Linked DNA regions of Homo sapiens. The protein of the gene in region 1 purifies or fractionates together with the protein of each later gene. This does not show direct contact. Each region holds a gene or a part of one and is shown in the gene's direction. Other genes may lie near its edges.

Region 1 (3,500 bases):
TTAAGATGAGGTTGTACTAGAGCAGAGTGGGCCTTTAATCCAATATAACTGGTGCCCTCATAAGAAGAGGAATATTTGGGCATGCTTGTGCGCACACACACACACACACACACACACACAAACACAGATGGAAAGTGGGGCGCGGAATGCCAGGTGAAGACACAGAGAAACAGACATAGGGAGAAGACAGCCATGTGAAAATGGAGACAAAAATTGGAGTTATGCTACCAGAATCCAAGGAATTTCTGAGCCTACCAGAAGCTGAGAAGCTGTAAGAGACAAGGAAGGATCCTCCCCAAGAACCTTCAGTGAGAGCATGGCTCGGCCAACACATTGTTTTCAGACTTCTAGCCTCCAAAACTGCGAGACAATACATTTCTGTTGTTTTCGTCACCCAGTTTGTGGTACTTTGTTATGGTGGTCCTAGGAAACTAATAAGTACATAAGCTTAGTTTATCTAAAAGGTGAGAGCATCAAATTTAGCCTATTTTTCATTAAATACTTCAATAGGAAATTGAGCCTATTTTTTTCATTACCTGTAAAAATAGTCTAGGTGACCCTTGCAAGACTACTGTTGTAATAAATAAAATCTTCATGCCCCTCACTCTCCACCCTCTCTCAGCTAACATTGCAGAGTAATGGATAAATGAAATTTGCATTTCTCCTTGTCAGGTGTCAGTTCTGAAAGGTGTTTTTTATTTAAGTTTCCAAAATGCCACCACTTGTGTAAATCTAAAGTTATTTTGAAATAAAAAGATTTTTAAAAATCCAACAATGTTGGAACGTAAATATAGATGTATTTTCTCTAGCATACTTGGAACTATTTAGCGAGATCCCTAACTTGAGTTTATAGCTCTAGAATTACTAGGCAAAATGGAAACTTATACTCCATGATGTCTAACAGATAGGGAAACAAATCCAGAAAAATAAGCAGTTGAGATTGCTCATATAGAAGACTAGTTCTGACAGAGTAGTACTTATCAAAATCAAAGTATTTAAATAGTCAAAATATACCTTGTACAAATTAAACCTCCCTGGGCCTTGGTTTACTTATCTGTATAATGCAATAGTTGGATCAGATGATCTCTGTAGTTCTTTCTTCCATGAATCTTTTATGATTCCAGAATTTGGGGTCATAAAAGAGATACAATAAAGCTATGTAATTCACAAAGTAAGTAATATTCTATGTTAATTGGCTTTTTACTAGTTTACAATGTAGCAATACTGTAATACATACGGTAGATTGGCTTTGTCTCTTTGATAACCTTATTTGCTGAAAGAGCAGAGAGACATGGGAGAGAATGCTTGAGGTAAGAGTGGTGCATGAGGTGGGTACAGTGGTGTGTGCCTATAATACTAGCTACTAGGGAGGCTGAGGTGGGAAGATCACTTGAGCCCAGGAGTTCAAGGCCAGCCTGGGCAATATAGCAAGACCCCATTTCCTAAAGAGAGAGGGGTCGGGGTATGTGGATATGTGTATAGAAAACAATGAGCTTCAATTCCTTTCTTACAGCAAATATAAAAATTAGAGAGGTATCATAGTCTTAAGTGTAAAAGCTAAACCCATAAAGTTTTAGGAAAGAAATATAGGAGACTATTTGCATGATTCAGGAGTAGGCAAACGTTTCTTAGACATAATTCAGAAAACAATCACCATAAAAGGAAACATTGAATAAATCAGACTGCATCAAAATTAAAAACTTCAGCTCATTAACAAAAATCATTAGGATAATGAATAGGCAAGCCAAAATCTGGTAGAAAACATTTATAAAACCTGTACAGTCAGTACAATCAGTTTGAGAAAGTTCTCATGGTTTCTTAGACAGCTAAACACACATCTGTCTACCCTACGACCCAGCAATTCTATTATTAGACATTTAGCCAAAAATTAAGATATATATTCACAAAATGACTTGTATAAGAATGTTCATGGCAGCTTTATTTATAGTATCTCACAACTGGAACAGCCTAGATATCCATCAGTAGGAGGATGAGTAAACAAATTGTGGAGTATACCTAGTAATAATAAAAAAATGATAGTTGCATATAACAGTATGGGTGAATTTCTAAAACATTATTCTAAGTAAACAAATCTTTACACAAGAGATTACCTAGTGTGTGTTTCAATTTATATGTAGTTCTAGAATAGTCAGAGCTAATCTATGGTGGAAAAGAAAATCAGGATGCTTGTTGCCTCTGGAGGATGAGGAAGGAGTTAATTAGGAAGAGGCTCAAGGGAACTTTCTGGGGTATAGTAATATTCTATATCTTGACTAACATTTAGTTACATATATGAGTTTGCCTTTGTCAAAACTAAGCAAATGTACATTTAAGATCTTTGTGCAATTCTTTGTGTGAAAATTTTATTTCAAAGAAAAAACTAATATTAAACTCCAGTTAACGATATGCTTGCTGAAAAATTTTTGAGGAAGTGTACTGACATTTGCAAATTATATTGAAATGCATAAAAATAAGATGGATTAATGAATTGATAGAGGAATGGATAGATGAATTTTAAAATATTAATGGTAGTATTTAGATGGTGGTAATACAGGCTGTTCGTTGTCAAATTCTTTTAACTTTTTTCATGTTTGAAAAGGACATTTCAAACATGCAGAGCAAGATCATTAATAATTTTCTCTGCACTAAGCATTTCTTTATGTTTCTAGAGTTGTTTTTCAAATATAAACTTTTAAGTTAGATATTCATTTCCTTTTCCTCAGTAGTAATACTCCTTAGGTTTGTGTGTTTTCTCTAGAATTGCAGATGAGAAGATCAAGCCTACCAGCCACTGATGCAGCCCTAATTTTTGTGCTGACCATAGGAGTCATTATCTGTGTATTTATAATTTTCTTATTGATCTTCATAATCATAAATTGGTAGGTGAATAGTGGAATGCATCATCACCCTTGATTGACATCCTCTTCTTCCCCCTCCTCATCCAGTGAATTGCAAAGCCCTGTCCGTGATGTCTCCTACATGTTGCCTTGAAACTGTCCATCGCCTTTCATTACTCCTGTGACTGCCCTAGTTCAGGCTGCCCCGTCTCTTTATGTAGATGCTTTTTAAAACAATCTCATGACTTGCTTCTCCAACTATGAGAGAGCTTTTAAATGCAACTTTTACAATTTTACACGGTAATTGCTTTAAAAAGTTTTATTTAATGAATATTTGTGTTGTCCAGTTGTGGTTCTCTCAACTCTAAAACTTGGTTATTGTAACCTACTAATTCATTTGTATGACAATATTTATAATACCTACATGAGTAGTACACCCTGGTAAGTCTGAGGGCTCATATACTATCGATTTGTAGCTGATGCATCGCAAACTAAAAATGAATAATGAATACAAAGGCACTTCTTAGAGAAGAGGTAATATATATGTTTTATATATATGTACATATATATGTACATATATTGTATATACAATATACATATATCTTCTATGTACATATAATGTATATACAATATACATATATCATATATAGGTCATATGTGTGT
Region 2 (3,500 bases), on another chromosome or scaffold:
GAAGTGGTAGCTCATGATTTTGTTTTGTTGTGTTTTGTTTTGTTTTTTTGAGACGGAGTCACACTCTGTCACCCAGGCTGGAGTGCCATGGCGCAATCTCGGCTCACTGTAACCTCTGCCTCCCGGGTTCAAGTGATTCTCCTGCCTCAGCCTCCCGAATAGCTGGGGCCACAGGCCATTTGTTTTTTGTCTCATGGCTTTGAGGAACATTTCTTTGGTGACTAATGATGTTGAGCATCCTTTCATTTGCTTATTGCTCATTTGTGTATCATTTTTGCGGAAATGTCTGTTCAGATCTTTTGCCCAATTTTAGACTAGGCTATTGATCCTTTTATTTTTTATTTTTATTTTTTGAGATAGAGTCTCCCTCCGCTGCGCAGGCTGGAGTGCAGTGGCGTGCTCTCTGCTCACTGCAGCCTCCGTCTCCTGGGTTCAAGTGATTCTTGTGCCTCAGCCTCCCATGTAGCTGGGATTACAGGCACCCGCTACCACGCCTGGCTAATTTTTGTATTTTTAGTAGAGATGCGGTTTTACCATGTTGGTCAGGCTTGTCTCGATCTCCTGACCTCACGTGATCCACCCGCTTCGACCTCCCAAAGTGCTAGGATTACAAGTGTGAGTCACCGCGCCTGGTCCCTTTTATTTTTACATTGTGAGGGTTACAACTATTTTGTTGTTGTTAGAGACAGTGTCTTGCTCTGTTGCCCAGGCTAGAGGGCAGTGGCGCAATCATAGCTCACTGCAGCCTCAAATACCTGGGCTCAAGCAATCCTCTCTTCTCAACCCCCAAGTAGCTGGAAGTACAGGCACGTGCCACCATACCTGGCTAATTTTTTTTATTTTTATTTTTTGTAGAGACAGGGTCTTGCTATATAGCTTAGACTGATCTTGAACTCCTGGGCTCAGGTGATCCTCTCGTCTCGGTCTCCCAAAATGCTAGGATTACAGGGGTGAACCACCGCGTCTGATCACCTATTCTTCATATTTTTTATATGTGTTACAGTTTTCTGTAGATAACCATTTATCTGAGAATGTCTCCAGAAGTGTTGGAAACCTTCCCTGTTGGATTCCTCTGCTTCATAGGATGATGTGAGCACTGTGGTGACTAATAAAGGAATGCATTCTTAGAAATGATTCATTGGTCAGAGGCAGGGCTGTGTGACATGCCACCATCCGCCATGTTTTAGTCCTTTGTCACTGCTTGAATTGGGATGGACGAGGTATGCATATCAGATATATGCTGGTGGTGAGGTGCACTGGGAGGCGCTGGTGATACAGTGAGTGACGGCATCAAGATCTTGACAGTTTGGAATAAAGGACTGAAATGTAAAAGGTGTTAGCTCATAGGAGCAATGTAGAGGGTAGAAATGTTAGCAGCAACATCTTTCATGAGAAAAAGACCTTAGGGTTTGGGATGACCAGCAAGAGTGGCATGTGCCTGATTACCACAGTAACATAGAAAACAGAGCTCTGTGTATTTTATTTTACTTTTTTCTTTTGAGACAGAGTTTTGCCCTTGTTGCCCAGGGCTGGACTGCAATGGCGTAATCTCAGCTCACTGCAACCAACCTCTGCCTCCCAGATTCAAACAATTCTGCCTCAGCCTCCCAACTAGCTGAGATTACAGGCACGTGCCACCACACCCAGCTAATTTTTTTGTATTTTTAGTAGAGACAGTTTCTTTTTTTTTTTTTTTTTTTTTTTTAGTAGAGACAAAGTTTTTTGTTTGTTTTGTTTTGTTTTTTTTGTTTTTTGTTTTTTTTTTCCGGATGGAGTCTCGCTCTTTCACCCAGGCTGGACTGCAGTGGCACTATCTCTATCTCGGCTCACTGTAAGCTCCGCCTCCCGGGTTCACGCCATTCTCCTGCCTCAGCCTCCCAAGTAGCTGGGACTACAGGCGCCCGCCACCGTGCCTGGCTATTTTTTTTTTTTTTTTTGTATTTTTAGAAGAGACGGGGTTTCACTGTGTTAGCCAGGATGGTCTCCATCTCTTGACCTCGTGATCCGCCCGCCTCAGCCTCCCAAAGTGCTGGGATTATAGGCGTGAGCCACTGCACCTGGTCTAGTAGAGACAAAGTTGAACCATGTTGGCCAGGCTGGTCTCGAACTCCTGACCTTAGCTGATCCACCCACCTCATCCTCCCAAAGTGCTGGTATTACAGGTGTGAGCCACTGCACCCAGCTAGCTCTGTGTATTTTAGTATGCCTCTAGAAACATCCACGCAAGGAGGCTGGATTGATGGAGGCTCCACGTTTGTGTTGGCCCCCAAATGTAGGCTGTCATTGGTGCCAGATGCTTAAGGAAAGAAAGAAACCATGTGTACAGTGTGGCTTCAGCGCTGGGAAGCTTCTTATTGAAGGTGAAGTATTGAGACTGGTGTCATTTCAGATACAGCATTATCTAACTTATTTGCCCTTTTTTGTTCATCTCACATTCTGGTTAGACCACTGAGTTTGTGGCTGTAATAGCAGGGTCAGAGTGGAAGCAGTCGGTGTACTTTTTTTTTTCCTTACATGTTTGTTTGTGTTGAGATATTTTTGGTGTTGGGACGTCTTTACCTCCCTGTGAGGGATGCTCATATTCACTCCGTTCCCTCTTCCTAGACACTCGTACAATGCTTGCATCATCATGTACTTGTGGTCAGAGCTCAGAAGTCATCTGTGGGTTGTCGGAGTGTTCTGGGTTGTCTATCCCACAGCCTCCTCCAAACAGAACCCCGTTTTGTTTTGCCCCCATCCCACACATACCAAGTATGCGTCAGAGAAGCAGACCCTAGGCCGGGCTCACGTATTGGTGATTGGTTCAGGAATGGACACGTGACCCAGTTTGGCCCAGTGAGAGTCAGGGAGAGTTTGGTGGAAGGTTCTGGGGAAGTGCTTCCTTGCCCCTCTAGGAAGGATCCAAAAGCCATTTATCGTCGCTCTCCTGGCTGAAGCTGTGTCTCCACTCACAGCGCAGGGCAAGCTGACATACAGGGCAGGGGAGAGCTGGGAGAAGCACAAGGAGATGGAGGCTTGTCTCGGTCAGGGCAGCCCCGATGCCGTCTTGCTTCTGCACTCAGTCGCTCGAGTCATTGTGGCCCTTCCTGCTTTTCAGCCAGTTTGAGTTGAATTTTCTGTAACTTGTGGGTAGAGATATCCCAGCCAAACTGAAAACAGTATTTTATAAAAACATGTTCGTTTAATTGTCAGTTTGTTGCACATAACATTATATGCCTTATTAAAAATATGTATTGAAGGCCAGGCGCGGTGGCTTACACCTGTAATTCCAGCACTCTGGGAGGCTGAGGCGGGTGCATCATGAGGTCAGGAGATCAAGACCATCCTGACTAACACGGTGAAACCCCGTCTCTTCTAAAAATACAAAAAATTAGCTGGGCGTGGTGGCGGGCCCCTGTAGTCACACCTACTCGGGAGGCTGAGGCAGGAGAATCGCTTGAACTCGGGAGGCGGAGGTTGCAGTGAGCCGAGATCGCGCCATTGCACTCCAGCCTGGACGA
Region 3 (4,086 bases), on another chromosome or scaffold:
GGGTTGGTTAACTTAGTGTAGTATGAAGTTACAAACAAAAAAGGGTGATGGTAGTGCAGTGTTTTGAATTAACATGGAACAATGTGTGTGAAGGAATAATTGATCCAGAACTTTATTGTAGAAACCTGTCCCCATCAAAGCCATACATGGGGCTGTATATATATGTCCAGAGAAAAGGTCTTCTGCACACTTAACTGTAACTGTTAGTCATAATTTCTCTGCAGAGTGGGATGGTGGGGCTAGGAGGAAGGACTTTCACTTTTAATTTTATGATACTCCAAATCATTTGCATTTTTTTTTTACAAAAATTATGTATAATTTTTCTTTTTTTTTTCTTTTTGAGACGGAGTCTCGCTCTGTCCCCCAGGCTGGAGTGCAGTGGTGCGATCTCGGCTCACTGCAAGCTCCGCCTCCCGGGTTCAAGCGATTCTCCTACCTCAGCCTCCCGAGTAGTTGGGATTACAGGCGCGCGCCTCCACGCCCAGCTAATTTTTGTATTTTTTAATTAGAGACAGGGTTTCACCATGTTGGCCAGGCTGGTCTCGAACTCCTGACCTCGTGATCCACCCGCCTAAGCCTCCGAAAGAGCTGGGATTACAGGCGTGAGCCACCGCGCCCGGCCCAAGATCATGTATAATTTCTATAACAAAAACAATAAAGGAAATAAAAATGTCTTCAGTGTTGTACCTTGTACTTGGCCTATGTTACAACAGGAATGACATATATTCCATTTTTAAGACATTACTTAGGGCTTTATAGATTTCTGCTTTAAGGAATAAATGCAATTTCAATCTATTTAAGACTTGATTTCTTCTTATATAAAAAAAGTATCTGATCTTGTATCTAATTTGTTATGACAGTACCATCACTTAAAGTACAGCAATTATGCAACCCCTGAATTTGAATTTCATTTTGCAAGTGTACATGACCTCACGGACAAAGCGAAGGCAGAAAGTTAAAATCAGCATATCGAAAATAAATCACTCTAGTTACCGAAAAGAACATAGGGTATCTGAACAAAATCTCAGAGCTCACATAGGCATAGATACTTCCATGTGAACTTTAGGAATCTTGCCTTATCTAACTTTTGCAGGGCTGAGTGGACCCCCTGCTCCCGCTAGCCGTTTTGGGAGCACCAGCCACCTCCACACCAGAACTGGGCTGTCGGGGGCCGCTGCGGCGCAGGGGCTCGTCCGGGACTGAGTCAGCGCCGGGGCCGAGAAGTTCGGCGGGAGGCGCAGGGCGGGGCTTCCTCCCGCCGACTCCGAGCCCGGCTCTACTTTTCTGAGTCCACGTCTCTTCCTTTGGACAGGCGTGTTTCCCCAGGTCGGGCCCAGCCAACGTGACAGCCGCAGACCTCGGAAAAGGGCGCTCCGGCCCCGCCTCGAGGATTTCCCCCGGCCGCTAGGGCAGCCCGGGCCCGCTCGGCCCAGCCCCTCACGGACTGCGGCGCGCGGCTCCCCGGGGCCCGGCCCGCCGAACGCCTCGCTCTACAGCCCTCACCTCGCGGCGCCGAGCGCAGCGTCCGCGGCATGGAGACCGGCTCCGACTCAGGTCAGAGGCCCGCCCCCGGGCCGCGGGGGACTGGCCCTGCGCGCGCGGCGGCGCGGTTAGGCCGGGCCGCCCGCACAGGCCGCCGCGTGTCGAGTCCGCGCGGGGAGCGCACGCGGGGCGGGCGGCGACAGGTGGGCAGGACGAGCCGCGAGCGAGCGAGGGCGGGCGGGCGCGCGAGGGGCCCGGCGGGGGGGCCGCTGGGAGGATGGCTCAGCTCTTTCTAAATATAAAACCGGCGTGAGTTGGGCGAGCGCGGCGCGGAGTCGCAGAGCCGCCGCGCGGGCCTGGCGCACGGGGATTCGGCCGCACAGACGGCGGCGGCGGCAGCGGCAGCGGCTCCGCAGAGGCGCGAGGCTGCGGGAGCGCCCGAGTCGCGAGCTCGCGGGGGCAGCGAAGGGCGACGCTCGCGACGCGGAGGACGCAGGCGGCGGCGGCGGGCGGGCCTCGGGGCACAGCGCGGTCCGCGCCGAGTGAACGGAGGCGGCTCGCGGCCCCTGCCGCACCGCGAGCCGCGAGCCCCCCGGCCGCGCCCTGCCCCCCCAGCCCCTCCCTCGTTCCCTCCCCGGCGCAACATGGCTGCGGCCGCCGCCTCCGCCTCCCAGGATGAGCTGAGTAAGTGCCGCGGCCGAACCTGCGGCCGCGAGCCGGAACGGGCGCCGCGCGGTGCCGGGGGCCGGCGGCCGCATGAGGGCTGGGGCGCCAGGCCCGGTGGGCGGGCGGCGGCCGCGGCGTACGGGGAGCTGGGGAGCCCGGGCCTGGCGGACGGGCGGGGCGCGGACCGTCGCCGCTGGCGTTTGTAGGCCTCAGGTTTGCACCGTCACGTTGCGAAATTGAAACCGGAGCCCCGGGCGGAGCCACCTCTGCCCGCGATCCGCCCTGGCCCGGGGTCGGGGGAGCCCAGCCCCCTGCCCACTGAGCCTCGGCTGGCGGGAGGGCCGGAGCCCCGGGGTGACGGGCAGTGTCCGCCCGTCCCGTCTGACCCCGCCTGGCCCCGGGTCCCCGACGGCTGGTTGAGTTATAGAAATGGAGCTTTCGGGAAGGGGGAGAAGGTGCCTTTTTGTGACACTCTAGTAATCAGCCGAAAGGTCACGAATAGGCGGTGACCCTCAGATGGAGCAGGGAGGGCGGAGAGGGTCGCCGGTCGAACCGCAGGAGAAACCACGGGGTGACAGCGCTTTCAGAAAGGAGAGTTAGTGCCCCCTCGATCGTACGCGGTGCAGCCTTCCCGGGGACGGCGGTCCCTGTCTGGGGAGAGCGGTGGTCACCCTGAATCCCAGGCCGCCCCGCCCGCCGCCGGGGTTCGCCTCAATGCTTTGTGGGAAGTGTAGTTCCGGGGCGCCGCGGACCCACGCTGGGGTCATAAATACCGAAGTTTCATAGGACATAGGACATGTGAGATAATTTCTGATTGCGTTTTGAGTGTTCTCCCCCCCAAGGGTTTTCTTTCTTTCCCTTTTTTTTTTTCTCCCAATGCTGCCCTTCAGTTTATGGCAAAAACAAGAAAGGTGTTATTTGAAGATGATGTGGGTTTTAAATGGAATAAAGCATGGGTGAGGTGTTGCAAGCTTTATGAAGCTTACGTTGTTAAAGCCGCTTCTGAATTTCCATATGAAAGTAGTTATACACGTAATGTATGTTTTTCTGGTGCTTGTCAGTTTAAAGCCACTTTTATATACATGATCTCACTTTTGCCCTCATAGCAACCTTGTGAGGCAGATAGGTAGGAATTATCCTTGTTTTAAAGAGGAGGCAGGTTTGGAGAGATTAAGTTCCTTGCTGCTTTGACACAGAACTGGTGGAGCAGGAGTACTGTTTGCTTTTTTTGAAGCTGAAGTAAACACTTGGTGTGATCCTGAGCAGATTGGAGAGTCGGAGGAGACAAGGTCTCATGGTGCGATTAGAGAGAGAAGCGGGCTACAGATTGCTCTTCTGTCGGTTCCACGTGGAAGCACCACCAGGCCTTCTGAGATCAGTTCCATGTTTTGTTTTAATTGGAAGAAAAGTACACATACCATAAAATTTCCCGTCCTAGCCATTTTTTAAGTGTACAGTTCAGTGGGATTGAGTACATTCACACTGTTGTGTAATCATCACCACCATCCATTTCCAGAACTCTTCGTCTTGTAAAACGGAAACTTGATACCCATTAAACAACAAATCCTCATTCCCTCCTCCCTTCGGCCCCTGGCGACCATCATTGTACTTTCTGTCCCTGTGATTTTGAGTATTCTTCCTACCTCGTGTGAATGGAATCATACAGAATTTGTGACTGGTTTTATCTTTATTTAGCATAATGTCCTCAAGGTTCATCCATGTTGTTGCGTGTGTCAGAATTTCTTTTCCTTTTAAAGGTTGAATGATATTCCCTTGTATGTATATATCACATTTCCTTGTCCATCTATCTGTCTATGGACACTTGGGTTGCTTCCACATTTTAGCTATTGGGAATAATGCTGTTGTGAACATGGGTGTACAGATACCCCTTTGAGACCTTGCTTTCAGTTCTTTTGGGTACATACCCAGAAATGTAAT
Region 4 (4,283 bases), on another chromosome or scaffold:
GCCCCACACTGAGTGATGACCATAAGCAGAACACAATATGTGCATAATCTCTACGTTCACAAAAACTCGGCAAGGTAGTTATCATTACCTTCATTTTACAAATGAGGAAGAAACTCAATCAGAAATAACTTTTCCAAGTCACAGTATTAGTAAGTGACAGAGCCAGGTTACCTCCAGTTTGATCTGCCACCAAAAAAAGAGCTATCTCCAGCTCAACAAAATGTCTTGCTGTGTTGCTACTCCCAATTTCCTGAGTCTGGGTTTTGTAAAGTCTCAAAGCTAATTAGAGTCTACTGTAAATCTATTCCTCCAGAAACTGCATTACACAGTTTGTACATACCAAAAATATGCATAATAAATTTTTCCAGATAGCATTCTAGCTTGTTGATGCCAATTTGGTCCCAAGGTCTTATGCCTCACTTGATTATTTATTTTGTAATTGTTGGGTAAAAACCAGATAAAAGAGAGGCAAAAGAGGAAGTTATAAACTTAATGCTAGTGTCTTAGTGCTGGATGTCACCTTAAATCATGTGTTGACAATAAATTACATCACAAAAACCTTAGCGCTAGAAGAGCTCTTGGATTATCAAATGCAAACTGCTTTTACAGATGAGGAAAACAAACCCAAAAATTTTGCATATTTGTTTAATAACTAACAAACTCATCAAAGCAGAATTGCATTGCAATGTAAACGGATATTTAACACTGTAAATTCTGAGTGGGAAGTAACTCCAAACTTATTTTGATCATGCAAACGTTGCATTGTAAAATTCCATTATTGTCTCCATTATTTTTTTCTTCTCAAGCATTTATGTAGGGATGTATGAAACTGATGTCCACGTAAGGGCAAAATCCAGCCCTACTTTTTATTTTGGGTGAGGAGGAAAACTTTTAAATAGCCCTTTTCAGTTGTAGGATCTTGACATTCCATGTTCAGAATATGAACTGTCTTTAATCCCATTCTACAAAACGAAAACCCAAATATTCACAAAGTCTTGTCAAGTCACATCCTTAAATGAAGTTCTTTTACATTAAAAAATGCTACCGAGCAATCCCTGAAACACAGTGTGGTTGGTTTCATTTGTTTTTCTGGGCATCTCGTTTCCTACACTGGGTTACAACATATTTGTTTGGGTTCGTGGTGGAAATGTCACAGCATGTTTAACTACATTCATTACCCTTGACAATTATTAACATAAAATAAAGGCAAAACGAGGTGCTAAGATGTAGGGGGAAAAAATCGGTCTGAGTAAGGCTGCCCATGCCCTTCCCTGCAAGAATTTCCAAATACCCACCGCCCAGGAGCAAAGGACAGAAAACACAGAGAAGCCCCACCCCTACACCCAGAAATAAAGAGATCCGCCCACCCTTCAACCAACCCGAAGTCGCTTTCTCCGCTCTGTCCACTGCTTGAGCGACTTTCCTTCTCCTCCGCGTCCCCTTTTACGACAGTTTTCCGGCCTAGTTTGCGGCTGCTCCTGCCGTGTTGCGTAGGGCGCCTGTGCTTGAGGTTGGGGGTTGCGTCGCTCTCTGGTAAAGGCGTGCAGGTGTTGGCCGCGGCCTCTGAGCTGGGATGAGCCGTGCTCCCGGTGGAAGCAAGGGAGCCCAGCCGGAGCCATGGTGAGTGCGGCCTTCCGGTCTTCTTGGCGACCTCCGGCCCAGGCCTCAACCTCAGCTCCCCGCCTCGGAGGTGTGGAGTTGAAGTTGTGCTCCTTAGTGCGACTGCGGGCGGGAGGTTTCGGTTATTGGGGAGTCACACTCACCAGGACACAACCCTGTTGGCTCGCTCTCTTGGGGGTTTGTGTTTTTACATCGTCTTTCTGCACGGTTCTCCAGCTTCTTGTCCGCACGGGCTCTGCAGGTGTTGCTTGCCTGGAACTCCTGTAAGGTCAGAGGCTGTCATGGACTCGGAGATTAGTGGAAACGTATTTGATTATAAGTGCCCTTGCCCTAACACATCTTCACAGCACTAGCTCCACTTTGCTATGTCCTTCTCTTTGGCTTTTGCTGACAGATGTCTTCTCCATGCTTCCTGAACATATTTGGGCCTGTCTTGTTAGGAAACAACAGGGCAGTGCCAAAGGTATTAGTCTCCTAGTTTAGCCCACGTTTAGCCTCGAAAATGCGTTGTTAGAATTTTACAGGAGCCGTCTGTAAACAGTTTTTCCTTCTGTAGCAGAAACCTTATTTCCACATTTTTTTTTTTTTTTTTGAGACAGAGTCTTGCTCGGTCGCCTAGGCTGGAGTGCAGTGGCACAATCTTGGCTCACTACAAGCTCCGCCTCCCGGGTTCGCCATTCTCCTGCCTCAGCCTCCCAAGTAGCTGGGATTACAGGCGCCCACCACCACGCCCAGCTAATTTTTTTTTTTTTTGTATTTTTAGTAGAGACGGGGTTTCACCATGGTAGCCAGGATGGTCTCGATCTCCCGACCTAGTGATACGCCCGCCTCGCCTCCCAAAATGCTGGAATTACAGGCGTGAGCCACCGCGCCTGGCCTATTTCCACTACTTTTGATTGAACTTTAATGTGACTTAATTTGTCTGGTGATGAAAGAAGTTTTCAAAGGGAGGGAATCATCTTTTTCACTATTGTAAAGATAAATAAGCAAGTCGAACTTGCCCTCTTTCCCATATGATGAATCCTGTAACTTTAATGCATTCAGCATAACAGATGCAGTAGTTTTAAAGATTACTGGACAGAATATTTCCGCCTTAAAAGTTGTTTCTCTGCCAGGCATGGTGGCTTATGCCTATAATCTTAGCACTTTGGGAGGCCAAGGTGGGAGGATTGCTTGAGGCCAGGAGTTCAAGACCAGCCTAAGCAACATAGCAAGACTCCGTCTCTTAAAAAAAAAAAAAAAAAAAGAAAAAAAAAAGTTGTTTCTCCTATTAAAATGCAGTTTGTAATGAGTTGGGGATGGAAGAATGGGCAAAATGAGAAAGGGTGGGAATTAGAGAAGTAAATATTTACTCTTCTCCCCCTTACCAGGCCAGTACAGTGGTAGCAGTTGGACTGACCATTGCTGCTGCAGGATTTGCAGGTTTGTTTATGGTTTGGGGATGGAAGTGAAGTCGGGGAGATTGGAGATTTAGTTTACTTATTCTGTTGCTTTTGGTTTTAGGCCGTTACGTTTTGCAAGCCATGAAGCATATGGAGCCTCAAGTAAAACAAGTTTTTCAAAGCCTACCAAAATCTGTAAGACTTTGTTAATTCTTTGCTGCTTCTATTTGAAACCTAGAGCCACACTTAGGGAAGGGTAAATTTCCAAATATCCATGAAGTTCTAAGTGATTGCTTTGGACCCATTCTCCTGCTTCCTGCAAGGAGAGTATAGAAGTTCTGAACTTTGTGATGGTGCTACCCTGAAACATCAGATGTTATATGTGACAGAGTTGGATGGGGTTTTGACAATTCTAGTACCCCACTAGACCCAAGTTTCACTTTTTCACATACCATCACCTTCAGCATCATCTGTACATATTCTTGTTTTCCTTCATCTGCTCTGCATCGCACACACAGAGGTATATGATTCTAAAGTGATCCGATCTGACCATGTGGCCCTGGCACTCCCAAACATCATACATAGGTAGCACTCTAGTTAATTAGGCTATAGGGTTTGGCTTGATGTTATGGTCATACTCTCTGTGGTCACAGTTAAGAATAGATTTGGCTGTGATCACCTGTTGAATATGTTGTGATTAAGTGTAACAGAATAGAGTGATTGTAGGCTTTACCAATATGATTTCTGACATGGCAAGGTCAGAGGACCTAATAGTGGTATTTTCTGTATATATATCTTAAAGTCTTGTTTCAAATACACTTGAACCTCTTGTCTCAAAAGACTTCTGTTCTTGAGCCACTTCTTGCAGATTTTTATCTAGAATATGGCTAATTTGGAATGATCTTTCCTTTACTCCCGGAAGACCTGGCTTTCAGACACTGTTATTTTGTCTTATATTTCTAAGATAGTTCATATTGACTGGAAAAAAATGAATCTGTTTAATGATCATTAAAATACTACTTGTTGCTACTTATTTATAAACTTTATTCAGCTTTAGCTAAAATACCTCGGGAATTGCACTAAAAGTCCTCTGAAATGTCTTAGTTTTTCTTAGTTCTGTGAATATTTCCAGACGTCTTTTTTAAAGCAACTTTATTTTATTAACCTTTCTTTACAAATGCATTTCTTCTTTCAGGCCTTCAGTGGTGGCTATTATAGAGGTGGGTTTGAACCCAAAATGACAAAACGGGAAGCAGCATTAATACTAGGTGTAAGGTAAAA
Region 5 (3,500 bases), on another chromosome or scaffold:
GTGTGTGTGTGTGATGGTGTGTGTGTGGGGGGGTGCGGTGGCGCTGCCTGTGGTTGTTATGAGAATTCAGTGAGATAGCCTCTACCCTGCAATGGTAGCTGCTATTGCATTCTTTCCCAATGAAAGGGTCTCTTTCTGTTCTGTTGTTTCTCTTACTGTAAATACAGTACCCTTTGTGACTCATGAGATTGGGCAGGGAGATAAAACGGACCTCAGCTCACCTTAGCTCATTCAACGATCTTTTTTTTCCCCTTTTTTTCTTTTTTTTTTAATTTCTTTGAGTTGGAGTCTTGCTCTGTTGCCCAGGCTGGAGTGCAGTGGTGCGATCTCGGCTCACTGCAACCTCTGCCTCCTGGGTTCAAGCGATTCTCCTGCCTCAGCCTCCCTAGTAGCTGGGATTACAGGCGCCTGCTACCACGCTCAGCTAATTTTCGTATTTTTAGTGAAGACAGGGCTTCACCATATTGGTCAGGCTGGTCTCAAACTCCTGACCTCAGGTGATCTGCCCTCTTCAGCCTCCCAAATTTCTGGGATTATAGGCGTGGGCCATTGTGCCCGGCCCAGGGCTTTTTTATTTAAAAAAAATTTTAATGCCATAATCCCTTCCATTATTGACATTTTTTACTTTTTGTGTAACTCTGAAGGTTTTGCAATATGGGTAGTTTGGAATTTATTTTATAATCTTGAAATATTATCAGTTGACATATGTTGTCATGACGAGAAAGATTGTGTTGGTCAAAGCTATTATTGGTTGTTTCTTTTTAAACACGAGCCACTTAAGGAAGCAAGTGGCTGAAGCCATGATTGTTAGCTTCCACTGGCACTTTGCATTTTTCTTTCTTTTCTTTTTTCTCTTCTCTCCTCTTCTCTTCTCTTTTCTTCTTTTTTTTGAGACAGAGTTTCACTCTTGTTGCCCAGGCTGGAGTGCAGTGGCATGATCTTGCCTCACTGCAACCTTCGCCTCCCAGGTTCAAGAGATTCTCCTGCCTCAGCCTCCTGAGTAGCTGGGATTACAGGTGCGCACCACCATGCCCGGTTAATTTTTTGTATTTTTAGTAGAGATGGGGTTTCAACATGTTGGGCAGGCTGCTCTCGAAACTCTTGACCTCAGGTGATCCACCTGCCTCGGCCTCCCAAAGTGCTGGGATTACGGGGGTGAGCCCACCATGCCCAGACCTGCATTTTACTTTCATTGTGAGTTATTTTTGACATAAACATAAATTTCATTTTCGTCACTCCTACACAATGCAGGCATTGGCAGTTTGTTGAAGGGCAGTTCTGTATGGTGATAGATACTGTCTGTATACAAAGATGAAAACTGTTTTTATAAATATTTCTGATTGCTCTTATTTTCTTGTTCTTGTGGAAAGTGAGAATGTAGCCAAATAGTCATAAACAAAACCAAGCCCCTAATCTCTTTTAAAATTTTGATATTATATCTTTGTTTTTATAGTGTGAATATTATCTCTAAAGGGTATAAAACTTTTAGATCATGAGCTAATCAGTATAACCAGATTCGTTAGTACAAATTTGTCATAAACTATCTGGAATGCAAATACCCTACTTAGAATAAAACACAAAATTCTGGAACAGGGAATATAAAAAATAATCAAAGCTTACATCTCTTTTTTTTTCCGAGATGAAGTCTTGCTCTGTCTCCCAGGCTGGAGTGCAATGGCGCGATCTCGGCTCACTGCAACATCTGCCTACTGGGTTCAAGGGATTCTTCTGCCTCAGCCTCCCAAGTGGCTGGGATTACAGGCGTGCGCCACCACGCCCAGCTAATTTTTTTGTATCTTTAGTAGAGATGGCATTTGACCATGTTGGCCAGGCTGGTCTCGAACTCCTGACCTCATGATCCGCCCTCCTCGGCCTCCCAAGGTGCTGGGATTACAGGCATGAGCCACTGTGCCTGGCCAAAGCTTACATCTCTTTAATAACTTATGTCAAGCTTTCACAGGGGTCTGTTCTTTTTGCCTAACATGAGTTGAATCGGGCTATGAATTCAATTAACACCTTTTAATACTAGATCAATTAAAAGCATAAATTGGGCCCTTGTATAAATACAGATTGACTTTTATTTTTAGAAAAAGAATCAGTAATTATGAGATTTGTATTTATATGATCTGTTTAGATTTATCATATGATGTTTATAATAAAATTAAAAGCATGGCCTAAATTTGCAGTGAAGAAAAAAAAGAAGAGCCACACATACAAAGCAAAATGATTTTGTTTTTATTATAAATCACATGGAAACATTTCTTGAAAGAATTAGAGCCTTCGACATCACAGGTCAAGTGATTATACTGTTTCTGAGTCAATGAATAATGTGATACCTGCATTATTATTAATAATAGAAATTTCAGAACCATAGTATGTGCTGCATATGGATTGTGTTTGTTCTGTTTCTAATAGCTAGAAACCAGTGCCTGAAAGAAACTCCAATTAAAATACCAGTAAATTCAACAGGAACAGACAAGTTAATGACAGGTGTCATTAGCCCTGAGAGGCGGTAAGTGTTTGGTTTTTTTAGACTCTAATCTTTAGTATATGTAACCAGATTTCCTTTTTCATGTATTAATAGACCTGATTAAGGTAAATCATCACATAGATTCTGTTGGAGAGTAGGAATATCTGTTTATGTGTGGATGACCTGTGGCCATTCCTGGACCTGTAGCCACTGCCTTCCTCATGGGGTAGAATCATGAAACTGATCAGCAGTAGGACGGCACCTTAAGTACAACAGGCTGGGAAGACAGTGGTCCTCACCCCAGCCAACTAGTTACCTCTCTGAGGCCCATCTTACCCTTCTCTTCTGCCAGTAAAATACAGATATCCTCTAACAGATTGTAGTCCTCCCAAATCGTAAAGATACTGTTGTTTCAAAGAAAATCCTCTGTATGAAAAGTTCTGCAGCATAGGTAACTCTTCAAGTTGCTATTCTTTTATAGCAATTTCTTAAAGGCATTGTCTATTTTCAAGACAATTGGAGAATTAGAATGTGGACAGGGTATTAGATGATATTATGGAATTATTATTAATTTATTGATGAAGAAACTGAGGAGATCAGGAATAAAATGATTTATCAAAGCTATATAGTACAAAGCTGGAGCCAGAACCCAGGTCTTCTCATTCCTAATCTTATGGTTTTTCTCCCACAGTCTGGAAGTGCTGGAGAACTACCTAGAAAGCCAACTAACACCACAGTAGTTTCTATTGAAAAATGCATTCAGGTTCCAAAATATTTACATAACTGACCATTTTTAGAACATTATCCGTTAGTATTTGGTAACTGCTTAGCTTCTCAATAATGTGTATATATGTGGTTGAACTAGTTTCCTTAATTTTATTTAACATTTTTCAGTGCAATGGTACTATGGTTTTTTTAAATCTCAGTGTCAGTGCTTGAAATACTTAACTATCTCCAACCAGAAAAATTTCAGAACAAAAGGATAAAATATGCCTAATAAACAGCCATATGTAACGTAAACTTCTCAGCA
Region 6 (3,500 bases), on another chromosome or scaffold:
AGTATTCCTTCAGTCTTTGTAGTAACTGGATTTTTTTATGCTTCTGGTATTGCTTTATAAAAGATTTTCATTTCAGAAAGCTATGTTCACATTTATCATTTAACATATTGATTTAAATGTTGATTATGATATTCAAGGATAAATCCTAGGCATTAATGAAAAATAGTTTTTTTTTAAGTAGTCAAAGAGTCCAACAAAATCCTTCAGTATTTAAAGGTACCTGCTTATACTTTTTGAGAAAAAAACTGGTTATTCAAAGGTAAAAAGTGAATCCATTTACTGTTATTACTGATACTTAAATCGTGGTTTATAGAAAACAAAACTATATTAGAATGGAAATGTGTAATAACTTGTTGGTTAAACATTCTTACTAAATAGACTGTTTTTAACCTTTGTGTTTAAGATAAATTTATGTATTATATTTTAAAGCACTAGTGTTTTATTGAAAAGTGAACATGTTTGATTGCAGCATGCTTGCAGAGAGTTTTCTTATGTCCCTAGAATATTTGCAACTCTTACTGAATCCATGCTACATTTGGTGACCATACTTCAGCTTGCCTAATACAGTCTCAGTGTAACACCTAGTATCCTGTTTATTACTAGTGATTACTTTCACCCTCAAGTATCCCACCCAGTTTGAAGATGAATTATATGGTTCCCCTAACTTGAAGTTAATCTTTCCCCAAGACATAAATTTAAAATTTTTATTTTTATTTTTAATAAATATTATCATGTAAGTTTTTTTTTAAAACACAGCTCTATGCAGATATTGAAAGGAATAGAGCATCATCCTCATTATCTGAAAATTTTGATCTTTGAGTTTTTATGATCTTTGCAATTAGATCCCTTTTAAAATAATTATCAGTGGATAGACTTACTCTGAATTGAAGGTCATATAGACTACACTTAAGAACACACACATACAGTCTTTTCATGTGAAGTGTGGCCAGAAAGCAATAAGCCAGGAGCAGAGATAATTTGATCCTCTTTGTAATTTAATGATTGACTAATTGAATACCTTTGGCAAATCATGTAGCTCTTCAGTGCCTCAAGTGCTTCATTCTGCACTTTCATTTGCAGAATGAAGATGATACTTGCTATTTACCTGCTGATCTACCTTACAAAGCCATTGTGAGGAAGTTGAATTGGTGTTTATGTACTGGAGTTTATAACTGTGCTATTTTTCCTAGTGATACTTGAAGGTATTGGATGGGGAAATGATCATCCCAGAAATGGGTCCAGTTTCTTATTATTACAGAAAAGTTTACAAGTACTTAAAGCAAAAACGCTTTTGGACTAATTCATCAAAAGTCCTGTGAAAGTAGTGTTGTTTTATTTAGTCTTTGGGTTTACTTTGGAATAATTTCTTAAGTATAATGTTTCTCATCAGGTTTTGTCATGAAATTAAGATGCTGTTGTTGAAACAGAAGCAGAAAAGGAAAAGAAATTAGCCAATTACTTTTATAACTAACTTTTATAATGCCCTAAGATAAATTGGTAGGAACGTGTAAGGTAATGTTACCACTTTCCTTTAGTATTAAATTTTTTATGGTTATAATAATTGAAGTGTATACGTGCATACACTTCACAACCGGTATAGATTCCTTTATGACTTTCAAGTTATATTTAAAATATTTGGTTGTTTCAGTGATTCAGAATATTCAACTTTAAGCAGAATTTGTCTTACAGAATGTTATATACAATCATATAAAAATGTTATTTTGTTGGATAAATTTGAGTTCAGAAGGCAATGACTTGACCCTGGAAGACTCAGTTTATTGCTGGGGAACCAAGTTAATATTTGTCAAGCCACCCTGTGTAAAAAACTGTAATGGGTAGAAGTTTTCTCTTTTGAGAAGCTTATTGAAATATAATGACATCTACTGCAAAATAGGACTACTAAATACATATACTTTACATGCAAAGTACATTTCTTAAAGAATTATTTCTGGTAATTTTTGATGACTTTATTACTTGATAATAAGTATTAGTTTAAAATTTTCCAAATTATTCTTTAAATAGTTGTTAGGTAAGAATATTCAGTAAGCCAGTAATTCAGAATAACTATTGTAGAAAATAATAATAATCTATTAATTTAATGAATCACCTCTAAATTACTAATTAACTTCTTTTACAACATAAATAACTTGTTATCAATAGAGCATTTTTGTAAAAAACAAAAGAAAGAATAAGTTTAATTATTAAAATTTGCTCTCTTACCAAATGAATACAAGGGCTTTTGAATAATCTCATTGCATAAGAGGCCCTCATTTCACAGAAATGGTAAGAACTAAATCAAAAGATTCAAGGGTTTTCCCTTTATAAAGAATAGATCAGAAAATTTGACAATCCAGACATTCAAAAAAACATTCTGCCAGTTGATTTTTTTGGACTACTATTTGATTAGATGATCAGTTCTGAAATTTAAGCTGCATGTATGCCCAAATTAAATTAGCATAGGAAAGTCAATGTGTGTGGTTTTTTAAAAGTATATTTTAGCATATTAATGGAGCAATTTAATTTACATTCAGTTACAAACCTCATTCTTATTAATAGGTTTAGGGAATGTTCTTGCTGGTGTGCTGATTACCATATTAGAGAAAAAATAAACTCTCCATATTATAATTCACCTGTTTAGTAAGGTGAGTTTCTTACTTGTGATTTGAGTGGATTATGCCTAAAAATTACAAGTATATTTGCACTAAGCGACAAAATATGTCCCTGAAAAATCTTAGCGTACTTGAATCATCAAATGTAATGGATTGTATTGAATTCTAAATGTTAAGAAGTAAGTGGATTTAGGGTTTTGTCTTTCTTTTCTTATGTCCTCTCTCATTCCTTTATACCTTTCTTCCTTTCTGAGGCCTATGTTTATAGCATGACTTTTAATGTGCTGAAAGATTTTCCTTCTGTTTTGTGTACAGAGTTGTTTTTGATGAGTGGTACGCTCAGAAGGAACTAGTTCTGACTACAAATCCCACTACTTGAAATAGCAATATTGTACCTAAAGTAGTCAAACAGATTTTGCTAGACAACTAAGCAACATCTGAATACAAATGTAAAGTATGCTGGCTCAGTGTATCTTTTAGGTCACTAAAGAGGACACATCAGTAAATAAATTGTTTTCAGTGTAATATTTTTACATAAAAATAGATTTCCCCCCCAAAATTTAAGATTTATTTAGATTCTTGAGACATCTTTTTATGAAAAGGAATTAATAACATACATCATCAAAACTTTTCTTAGGAGCGTTGAAACAATATAAGAAGGTTACAGAAGGCCTTCTAAAATATGAATTCCCATCTGTATGAGGTACTTCTTTCCAACTCAGTGACTTTTTGCCCAGAGACTTGGAAGACTGGGCAATGTTTTCTTTCCCCTTTCCCAACTCCTGGAGACAAGGCCCTAGGAGCAATTTCCTCCAGTAGGGCAGGCCGTAGTCCTGCTCTGTCTTACTTCCCACTGCAGCAGGAACATGTCCTCGCCTCTGATTCCTTCTG
Region 7 (3,500 bases), on another chromosome or scaffold:
GGGGAACCCGGGAGTTCTTGGCAGAATAGGTTACGCTTAAACAACATTAAGGGATGGGTAGAAGCAATGGGAGAAGGGCTTTCCAGGCATGTGGAGCCCTGCATGTTGAAGCGTGGAGCTGCACAAAAGCCTGGCATGATTGGGAAAGATGGGAAAAGTTCAGGGTCTGAGGACAGCACAGGGCTAATCCAATTACAGGCTAACCAAGTGAGTTCACAGACTTCATCCTCTACAGCTGTTTCTTCCTCGAACAGCACTGTGCCTGCAGGCACACCCAGGTCTGCCTGAGGACACGCAGGTCAGAAGGGGCCTCTACCATCTGAGGAATGTGCTGCCATTTGTGTTACCCAAGCTCCAGCCAGCTGGACGTCTGGAGCCACCACATCCTTTCAGATTTAAACACAACTTCCCTTGATGGGAAACCGGCCTCCCTCCCCAATCCCTGCGGTTTCTCCCAGGCACCACTGACTCCTACTCCTCGCTTCTTCCGCGTTATCTCATCTTCTCGGTTTGCTAGACACGATCTAGCAGCTCTGGCACAAATCCAACTGCGCAGCAAATTTTACTGAAGGTTTAAAAGTATAGTGCAGCCCACAACCCCTGACGGAATATTAAAGGGACTCTTATTTACCACCGGCCACCCCCACCACTCGGGGGGATTGGGGGTCGTAGCTGTTCACTGGTAGCTCTGCCCCACTCTGTTCTGCTCATCTTCTCATTCCCCACAAGCCCCTGATTTCTCATTCACAGCAATTGGGCTCATCCAGCCCCATCCTCCAATAACCATAGAGGACAGCAAGGTTTTTGTTTTGTTTTGTTTACTAAAGGAAAGCCAGCTCACACTGAGGATTTCTATACTGGTGTTTTCTCCCTCCCTGCTACCATCCTTGAAGGGCAGTGTAGGAGGAAGATCTCAAGAGCCTTTATGATTTAATGAGATGTAAAAATCCACCCTCCAGTGCTGCCGAGTTTCTTAGTGGCCTTGCTGAGGGGCTGGGATTCTACTCCGTCCATTTTTGGCCAAATGGAAAGACACATCAAAGATTCCCTTCTCTTCCTGGGGATTGCAAAACCCTTCTGTCTCCAGAATGTGTAAACAGACCCATGCTAACTGCAGGGGAAACTCTGACTCTCCCGTCCGTCAGCCCCTGGGCCTTTGTGCTGCCTGGTGCTGTTGTCTGAGCTTGGCAGGCCAGCTCCGGTCAGGGGATTAAGCGACGGGCTCGGTGGCGCGGCAGCGTGTGGAGATTGCCCAAGCCCTAGGCATTTCCTGTTGCGAGAAGGCCAGGCCCTGCCCTTGAGCACGAGGGCGGCGCCTCCTTCCCCAGGCCAGGGACAAGAGGGAGGAGCCAGGGACTAGAGGGAGGGGCCAGCGGCAAGAGGGAGGGGCCAGGGGCAAGAGGGAGGGGCCAGGGACTAGAGGGAGAACTGCCCCCGTGTGCAAGTGGAACCTGGAAAGCGGGGAAACCGGCTTCATGCATCTTACTATATCCTGAGCACTCAGCGGGGTTGCGAATTAGAGAAAGCCAGTTGTAAATCCTTCTTTAAGTTCTTTTCGTAAAATATAGGGGGAGAAAAACCCCTGGACAAGGCATCAGAAAACCACACCAGAACTTCACCTTTAGGGGTCACTTCATTTCTCTAGATCTGACTCCTCTTCTGTGCAGTGAAAAGACTTAATTAGATGAGCTCCTAAAAAATTAAGAGGCTCATGAACCTAGTTGAGTCCCCTGTGGAATAAAGCGGCTTTATTCTTGGAGTTTCTTAACGTTCGTGGTGCTGCTGTGTTCAGCTTTAGGGGATAGAATTTCTGTTATCTCCTTTGGAAAACTGCCCCAGACTGGGAATGCCCAGGCTTTCAGAGCCATATTTTGTATATCTGTGTTCACAGCCACTTACACAGAAACATACATCCACCTCCAATGTAAAGTTTAACCACATATAGGACATATAAGATTCCTGCTTTCACATCATAAGGTGAAAGAAACCTCGGAAATTCTAAGGTAAAGTAATATGAACTATAATATTTTATTGTGTTGGGGACTTTATTTTGTTATATTTTGCAGTTATAAATTATCAAAATTAAGTCCATGTGCGGTGGCTCACACCTGTAATCCCAGCACATTGGGAGGCTGAGGTGAGAGGATCACTTGAGCCCAGGAGTTTGTGACCGGCCTGGGCAATATGGCAAAACCCCATCTTTACAAAAAATAGAAAAATTAGCTGGGTGCATTGATATGTGTCTGTAGTCCCAGCTACTCAGGCAGGCTGAGGTGAGAGAATTGCTTGAGCTGTGGTAGTTGAGGCTGCACTCCAGCCTGGGTGACAGAGTGAGACCCTGTCTCCAAAAAAAAAAAAAAATTATCAAAATTAGCAGGTACAAGGAGAAGTCAAAAATGAGCGTGTATTTGTTGCCATCAAATGATTGGAAAAGCAAACCACAAAAGAACAAAATCCAGACTGGCCAATGCTGAGAAACAATCAAAGGAGAATGAGGTTGCATGAGTTCAAATCCAGCTCTGTCACATACAAGCTGGGTGACCTAAGTCATTTAACGTCTCTATTCTCGTTCTCTAAAATAGGAATAATAACACCATGTACCTTCCTGGGTGGTTGCAAGATTAAAGGATTAATAATACATTTAAAGTGCTCAAAAGAGTGACTGGCACATAACATGGGAAAGGCTGCATAAATTCAATGGTGTGTTATCATGAATGCAATATGTGTTTATCGAGCACCTACTTTGCACTTAGAATACAAGGGTCAGCAGAATCTGAGAGCGAGCAACCAAGTAAGAGAGAGAGAGACACCCAAGTGTCAGCTGTCAGAATGTTGTACGTCCTAGTCTGCTGTGACCTCTCTGTCCTTTAAGATGTATTAAATTTTTTGAAAATCATTTTAAAGAAGACTGCCCATCCCAAGCACAACATGTAACTCAGGGAGTCTTAATGTGCCAACATGTTTCTGCTTTGCTTTGTCACCTTTTGTCCTGACCTCTCCTGCCTTTGCTTTTTTGCACCTTGCCTCCTGCATGGGGTGCCCCATCCCACGCAGTGGTGCCCTGCATAGGACTTCACCCAAATGCCACCAAAACAAGGCTGTGAGAAGCAGGCTTCAGCATTGTGAGCAATTTCTCCCTCTTTTGTTCATTCCTCTGCTTTATCAACCCCTTTTCCAGCTTCCTTTCTCTACCCAGGAGAGAAATCATGCCACTTCCTTATAATCCATCCATGACTATAAATGGTGATATTTTTCTCCCCACAACAAGAATAATTACAGTGCCAAGATGAAGAGCAGTTGCTACATCTCCTCCCTTTTTCCATCCACAGTTACAAGTTCCTCATCTTCTTTCTTCATCTTAAAAAATATAAACACTAACTTCTTGTCACTGAGCTAAGTTGCAGACACTTAATTAACTGCTTTATTTGAGTCATCTTATTTAACTTATTTGTAAATTCAACAGATAATTCTTGGGCACCCACCACATACAACATAGTGCT

What was found.
Region 2: the proteins of SPACA1 (region 1) and DAGLB purify together in Homo sapiens (affinity purification with mass spectrometry; 3 studies listed by BioGRID and IntAct, with this or other methods). This does not show direct contact.
Region 3: the proteins of SPACA1 (region 1) and ECPAS purify together in Homo sapiens (affinity purification with mass spectrometry; 3 studies listed by BioGRID and IntAct, with this or other methods). This does not show direct contact.
Region 4: the proteins of SPACA1 (region 1) and DNAJC19 purify together in Homo sapiens (affinity purification with mass spectrometry; 3 studies listed by BioGRID and IntAct, with this or other methods). This does not show direct contact.
Region 5: the proteins of SPACA1 (region 1) and MELK purify together in Homo sapiens (affinity purification with mass spectrometry; 3 studies listed by BioGRID and IntAct, with this or other methods). This does not show direct contact.
Region 6: the proteins of SPACA1 (region 1) and LMBRD2 purify together in Homo sapiens (affinity purification with mass spectrometry; 3 studies listed by BioGRID and IntAct, with this or other methods). This does not show direct contact.
Region 7: the proteins of SPACA1 (region 1) and ANTXR1 purify together in Homo sapiens (affinity purification with mass spectrometry; 3 studies listed by BioGRID and IntAct, with this or other methods). This does not show direct contact.

The regions. Positions count from the first base shown.
Region 1 is NC_000006.12:88,061,341-88,064,840, forward strand, and holds part of SPACA1 (sperm acrosome membrane-associated protein 1 precursor), read left to right. Parts: intron 1-2,739; coding exon of another isoform or gene 2,740-2,758; coding exon 2,759-2,879; intron 2,880-3,500. UniProt on the Homo sapiens protein: Plays a role in acrosome formation and establishment of normal sperm morphology during spermatogenesis. Important for male fertility.
Region 2 is NC_000007.14:6,441,455-6,444,954, reverse strand, and holds part of DAGLB (diacylglycerol lipase-beta), read left to right. Parts: intron 1-3,500.
Region 3 is NC_000009.12:111,481,584-111,485,669, reverse strand, and holds the start of ECPAS (proteasome adapter and scaffold protein ECM29), read left to right. Parts: upstream 1-1,286; 5' UTR 1,287-1,532; coding exon of another isoform or gene 1,533-1,554; intron 1,555-1,612; exon of another isoform or gene 1,613-1,685; intron 1,686-2,107; exon of another isoform or gene 2,108-2,126; coding exon of another isoform or gene 2,127-2,166; intron 2,167-2,268; exon of another isoform or gene 2,269-2,361; intron 2,362-4,086. UniProt on the Homo sapiens protein: Adapter/scaffolding protein that binds to the 26S proteasome, motor proteins and other compartment specific proteins. May couple the proteasome to different compartments including endosome, endoplasmic reticulum and centrosome.
Region 4 is NC_000003.12:180,986,937-180,991,219, reverse strand, and holds the start of DNAJC19 (mitochondrial import inner membrane translocase subunit TIM14), read left to right. Parts: upstream 1-1,483; 5' UTR 1,484-1,617; coding exon 1,618-1,620; exon of another isoform or gene 1,621-1,888; intron 1,889-2,990; coding exon 2,991-3,042; intron 3,043-3,123; coding exon 3,124-3,197; intron 3,198-4,197; coding exon 4,198-4,277; intron 4,278-4,283. UniProt on the Homo sapiens protein: Mitochondrial co-chaperone which forms a complex with prohibitins to regulate cardiolipin remodeling.
Region 5 is NC_000009.12:36,666,895-36,670,394, forward strand, and holds part of MELK (maternal embryonic leucine zipper kinase), read left to right. Parts: intron 1-2,415; coding exon 2,416-2,512; intron 2,513-3,500. UniProt on the Homo sapiens protein: Serine/threonine-protein kinase involved in various processes such as cell cycle regulation, self-renewal of stem cells, apoptosis and splicing regulation. Has a broad substrate specificity; phosphorylates BCL2L14, CDC25B, MAP3K5/ASK1 and ZNF622.
Region 6 is NC_000005.10:36,099,888-36,103,387, reverse strand, and holds part of LMBRD2 (G-protein coupled receptor-associated protein LMBRD2), read left to right. Parts: 3' UTR 1-3,500. UniProt on the Homo sapiens protein: Recruited to ligand-activated beta-2 adrenergic receptor/ADRB2, it negatively regulates the adrenergic receptor signaling pathway. May also regulate other G-protein coupled receptors including type-1 angiotensin II receptor/AGTR1.
Region 7 is NC_000002.12:69,177,179-69,180,678, forward strand, and holds part of ANTXR1 (anthrax toxin receptor 1 isoform 1 precursor), read left to right. Parts: intron 1-3,500. UniProt on the Homo sapiens protein: Plays a role in cell attachment and migration. Interacts with extracellular matrix proteins and with the actin cytoskeleton and thereby plays an important role in normal extracellular matrix (ECM) homeostasis.